Linked DNA regions of Homo sapiens: region 1 is linked to region 2. The links come from fine-mapping of genetic effects on gene expression. Tissue or cell type: left ventricle. Region 2 holds a variant in brackets; the other region holds the start of a gene. All regions are shown on one strand. Distances are between the middles of the regions. Region 1 holds the start of VILL (villin like). Region 2 overlaps ITGA9 (integrin subunit alpha 9).

Region 1 (2,904 bases), 240 kb after region 2:
AACTGGAAAACAAACAGGAGTGAAGGCCCAAGCTCTGCTCCTGCTGCCATTTAGAGGCCTGAAGGAGACAGGTGGAGTGAGAGGGGAAGGAACAATGGTGACTGAACTGACTGCCGCTTGGTTGACAGCGGGCATTGGTGACTTAGGAAAGAGCCATTGCCAGGGAATTCAAGAACAAACAGAGCGGGTGGGCTGAGGGGAGATGGGGGAAGAGTCGGTGGGAAGAAGTGAGGACACAGAGTCTTCCTGGGCACAGAGACAAAAAGGGACAGGGAAACGGGTATGCACAGGTACAGTGGACACACTGCCACTGTCACAGACAGGGTCCCTGTCCCAAGTGGGGATCAGACAGACATGCCAGGATACAGGCACACACATGAGGTCGGACAGGCAATGGCACACATGGGGACGAGCCAAATGCCTGTGACACAGGCATCCCTTCACACACAGGGACCCTGCATTGTGTCTGTTAAACACAGTCACACACTAGCTGTAGGTCTTGCTGGACACAGACTGCCCCCGAGTCCCCAAGTCCCCAGACCCCTGTAACAGAGACCTTTGTGGGGTGAAGACTGAACACAGGGAGAGGGTCTTGGGCAGTGGGCAGGCTTTAGCAGCGTGGCTTTGATGGGATGGCCCACGCTGGCTGGGCCTTGGCTGGGACTGAGGCCCTAAGCCGCCAAGAGGAGGTTGTGCCCCTGGAGTTTCTGGAAGGCTCTGTTTGCAGCCCCTCCACCCCACAGTGAGAGAGAGAGAGTGGCAGTGGAGTGGCAGCTGAGGTGAGGGAGAGGTGTCTTCGCTGCAAGAGCTGGACTGGCCTCTCCCATGATGGGTATCAGGGTTCCCTGAGGAGGGCTGTGCCAGGCAGTGAGCTCACATTTGGGTAGGGACAGCAGAAATATCTAGAGGGAGCCCTGACCACCTTCCCCTCCTGAAGTGAGCTGGGTCTCACAGAGCCTGACCCCACAGCCCCCAGCCTTGGTCCTACTTCCTCCTAAAGTTTGCTGGAGTGGCCTGGCCCTCTTGGTCCAGGCGGAGCCCACCACTCCGGGTGAGGGATCAGGGGCCCATCTAGTACTCCAGAGAAGGAAATCCCAGTATCTTCCACACCCCACCTCTTAGCCCAGTCCAGGCCTCCATCCCCTGCTCTCTCTGGCCACTGGTACCCAGGCAGTGAGACCTGGGAGACTTAACCATAGCCCTGGGGAGGGCGCTGGTCCCGACGGCTTGCTCGATATTTGTTGACTGGCTGACTAAGTGAATGCCTAGCCCGCTGAGCACTGTGTGGTGGGGTGTGTCCTGCAGGGCAGGAGCTAGGATTGAGTTACAGTGGTGGGGACCAGGAGTAGGGAGGCAGAGACTGGCCCCGTGCCAGGCCTAGCACTGCCCACAGGCAGGGCGAAGGCGCGGGAGCAGTTTCCAGCAGGTAGGCCTGGGCAGAGAGTTGGGGGGCGGGGGTTTCCAGGGAACCAGTGGGGCAGAGTGGGCTATTCAAGTCAAGGGCATAGAGCATAGGGTCCCAGGGCTCAGGGCCACAGAGCCTCCGCGGCAGAATTGGGAGGCGGCAGCAGCCCAGCAGGTGAAAACACTGATGGGGCAGGGCAGCTGTGGCCGGCAGCCCAAGGGGAAGAAAGTGGCAGATTTTGTAGATGGGCAGGGAAGTCCGTGGCCCACAAATTCAGTGTGCCTGCCCCCAACCCTGGCCCCATCCTCCTTTCCCCTCACTCTAGAGGGCGGCACCACTCCCTGCTCCATGGAAACTGAGCAAGGTAATCTCGGGCTCCCTTCAAAGGTACCCACAAAAGAAGGAAGGGCTCCTGTAGGGAGAGAAAGAGGCACTGGAGGAGGGAGAAAGCGAGGAGAGAGGAGGCACCCAGGGACACGAGGGGCAGGGGGAGAGAAGAGGGGGTGTGTGAAGCGGGTAGGGAGTGCCCCGGGAAAGAGAGGGGAGCCTGGGGAAGAGAAGGAAAGACCTGGGGAGGAGGGTGGGGAGGGAGAGAGGGAGGGGTGTAGGGGAAGACAGGGAACCAGGAAAGGAGGAGGTGCCTGGGGAGGAAAAATGGGAGAAAAAGGGAAGGATCCCAGGGGAGAGGGGAAATCAGAGGGGAGAAAGAAGAACCAGGGGGAGGCAGGGGCACCCAGTGGGGACAGAGGGAAACCCTGGAAAAGCGGAGGCGTGGGGCATGGGGAGAGAAAGGGAAACCAGGGAAGGAATTGGGCATCCGGAAGAGAAAGGGGCCCTGAGTGGAGGAAGTGCACCCCCAGGGAAGAGAAGGAGGGCTTCTAGGAGAAGGGAGAGGACCAGGGATAGGAGGGTTCCCACTTGGGAAGGTGGTGAAAGGGAGTTCCCCAGAGGAAAGAGGGCAGGAGGGTTTGGGAGGCTGGAGGGGGCACTGTGGGGGGTTCCCCTGAGGAAAGAGGGCAGGAGGGCTTGGGAGGCTGGAGGTGGCACTGTGGGGAGGGAGGAGGCCCCCAATCTTTGAGCACCCATTCCTCCCTGGAGTCCAGGTGAAAGAGAATGAACACAGGTGCCATGCGAGTGCGACCTCAGCCCTGGCAGCTGAGGGCTTGGCTCTACGGGCTGGGGCTGGATATCAGACGGGCTCCCGGACCCCTGGGGGCGATGCTGCCTCTCCCAGTGACACCAGCCGAGTCCCAACTTTTTGGCTGCCAGTTTGACTTTCCAGTCCCCCATGTGCCCTGGTTGACACTGTTCTGAGGCCATCCAGTAGTCTTTCTGGCACTCTGTCACCATGTTGTACTCTTCCATGAGCTACAGCTCACAGTTTCTGTCTGCACCTCTGGTCACTGCCTGCCTGGGCCTCTGGTAACTGTCACTGGTCACTATTTCTGCCTATTACTCAGTGTCCTTCTACGGGGCCACCACTGGTGGACATCCTGCTT
Region 2 (2,904 bases):
CATCTGGTGGTGCAGAGATGTTTCATGTCCAGGAAATGGTGGTGAGTTCTCCATTTGTTTTCACTATTGCTTTCAGCTTTGAGCCAGCCCATTCAAATTTTGTATTCCACCCTACCCTGACATCCACCTTGAGGGTTTGGAAAATTCAACTCATTCTACCCTTTGGAGACATATCTGGAGAGGCCAGGGGACCTGTGATACCTGAATTTCTACATTGAGACCATTTGGTTAATGCTGTAAGAAGACCTCTTTGGAGATGGGGAAGAGTTAATTACGAACCAGCTCCTGGGATGGACTTCGCTGGCTCTGGGAACCCCCAGCAGCATCTGCAGTTGCATGCGTCTGAATGCATTTTGCTGAGTGCATTTTGCACAGGGAAAGTGCCTGCAGTCCATGTTGAGAGGATTGTGAAAGCATTGCTCTCTATAGGGGCACGTGAAGGACATTCAGCCAAAGGGACAGTTTTTCCATAGATAGCTTGAAAATCAGGGCAGCAAGGCCCATATGGAGCAGGTGAATATCTGAGCCGAGAGTTGAAGAGGACACAGCCCACAGGGTGGAGGTTCAGAAAACATTGTGTGATGGTGACAGTAATTTCTGGCATTGCTGCCCTCTGGGTCATGTGGACTGAAAACCAGACGCATGTGAATGTTGAATGTAGAACAGGTCACTCCTCCCGAGATGCCAGCTCAGATGTTAACATCCCTCATGATGTTCCATTCCAGTTCCATGGCATCCCCTTGTCTTTGGGCTCTGCTGACCCAGCAGAAGAAAGCCGCCAGTGTTCCGCACCTATGATGTACTATGGTTGGAACTTAGCATGAGGTGAACAAACCACACAGGCTTCTGGCTACCCTCTTAAATATTATTAACCATGCTGACCATGCCACATTTCCCCAGCATCTAGGAGTGTTCTCTTCCTAGAGCATGCTTTCTGAGTTGTTCACGTGAACATCTACAGTGTTGCAGGAGCCTTTTTTTTTCCTATGGGCAAAATCATCTATTGACCAAAACAAGACATTTAAGTCACTCAGATTCTGAAGGTACCCCAAAACCAGGGATACCCCTTTTCCTCTTTACTGATCATCGAGCCAAGGAAAAGCCACTGGAAGGGACTTGGGCTCACACTTACAAATAGCTGGCTTGCATGGAAGGCATTAGAAGTGGTTTCCTGAAGACCTGGACAACTGCCTGGCTATCGTTCTGGCTGAGTGGACCCTCAGATACCCAAGTGGTGTGAGCTGGCTGCACTCTGTTCTTTGGGCTCTGAGAAACAAATCCTTTGGATTTTCAAAACTATATTTAGAATTTTCATAAAGTCTGTAACAGACTTGGCCCTAGGATGGCCAAGTCTCCATCTGGATAGCCCAGCCTGTGATCAAAGGCTGTGGGCATCTTCATCGTATGGAAAAGTAAATTCACTGGCACATCTCACTAAGCAAGTAGGAAAGCTCTCTGTGTTCTTATAAACGATCACCACTGAGCCCAGAATGACAACAAGAGTAGAAGCATAAAAG[C/A]GAGTGCATGAGGTGCTGTAGTGAAGAGGCGAGAGTCCCCAGATACTTGTTTCAGAGGCCCACAGCTGGCACACCCTCTGCCTTAAAGCCCTCGGCAAGGGCCTCCTGTGGCTCCGCCCCTCCCTTGCTCAGTAGGGCCTGAGAATGCTCACTGGGTCAGGTGTGATTCAGAGCTCATGACGGTTTCCACTTTGGCCTTATGGGACTTTGAATGGAGCAGGGCTTTCATTCTGGGGATTTGGGTGGCTTGGTGCAAGTGAAATTCAGTCCTATTAGGAGAAACCAGCACTCATTCTCTGTACTGCACTAGGAGGTGACCCTTTGGCCTGGTGGCATTCCCTCCCCACCCCCACTCTCAGCCACCACCATTCCCCAACCTCCAAAGGCTACTGAACAGCTGGGCACCAGCTGGACATGTTAAGCCAACTGAAGCAGAAACAGATTATAGGCATGGAGGGAAGGCTCATCTGTCATTCCTCTCCACACCCTTGGGACCCTCAAATTGTTTCTCCCTCTCTAACAGTGCCCTTGGTGTCTGTATTGCCTGTGATCATCATCCATAGAGCATAATGAGGATGGGCTTACTCGCCCTATGGGCCCTGGGCTGTCACCCTACCTACGGACCCACGTGTGGCACAGTTTTCTGACTTGGTTCAGAATTCATTTAGAAGTCTCTGGGGCTGCTTCTGGGGTCCCTGGGCAGGACCAACCTGCCTCTAGCTTTCACCAAAGAGTCTTTTGTGTTTGCCCAAAGCATTTCTTGAGGTCCAGCTGTCTGTAAGTGGAGAGTGTCTGGCTTATATATGGGAGGTTTTTACGGGGAGCCTAATGAAGTGTAACCACTCCAAACTCCCAGCCTTGGCTCGTGATCTTCTTTCCTTGTAGCTAATGTCTCTGAGCCCCTCTGCTGTGCTTGTATTTACCTTAAAAACAGAGCCACGGTGGTGGCCTGAGGAAAGACTATCAATTTTCACTGCTTCCCACCCACGGGGGTTGTGTGGACCCTACTCTGACTTCCCACAGCACAGAAAAAAAAGGAAACAGGTCACTGTGGACCTAGTGTCTGTCCATCAGGAAGCCAGGTTGTAATGATCATGAAAATAATAGAGGGGAAGAATGACAGACCTTTCTAGTCTATCTGAAATAGCAAAATTACTAGTAACAAATCATTCTTGATTTGTTCACAAACACTGGCTCAGCAAGTACCTATTACGTGCCAGGCTCCAAGGAGAGGAATAAGTCCCACATCTGCCCCAGAACTCACTGTCTTGCAGGAAACAGATACATAAAATGCCATTGTAATACCGTATAACAAATGCAATAATGGAGGCATGCCCAGACCCCAGGATGCTACAAAGGTTCAGTGCTTCACAAAGGAACCTCTTCA

Evidence for each region. PIP is the estimated chance that this variant, and not a neighbour inherited with it, causes the effect.
Region 1: VILL starts here. The variant in region 2 is the best candidate, but not a certain one, in a credible set for the expression of VILL in left ventricle (GTEx, PIP 0.89).

The regions. Positions count from the first base shown.
Region 1 is chr3:37,989,404-37,992,307 of GRCh38, forward strand. VILL (villin like) reads left to right here and starts at 1,383. Exons shown (of 20, transcript NM_015873.4): 1 at 1,383-1,426.
Region 2 is chr3:37,750,529-37,753,432 of GRCh38, forward strand. It overlaps ITGA9 (integrin subunit alpha 9), which reads left to right. Exons shown (of 28, transcript NM_002207.3): 23 at 1-41. Among named protein-coding and RNA genes, the nearest start is that of ITGA9-AS1, 110 kb to the right of the region's middle. The variant C/A (reference allele first, on the strand shown) is at 1,518.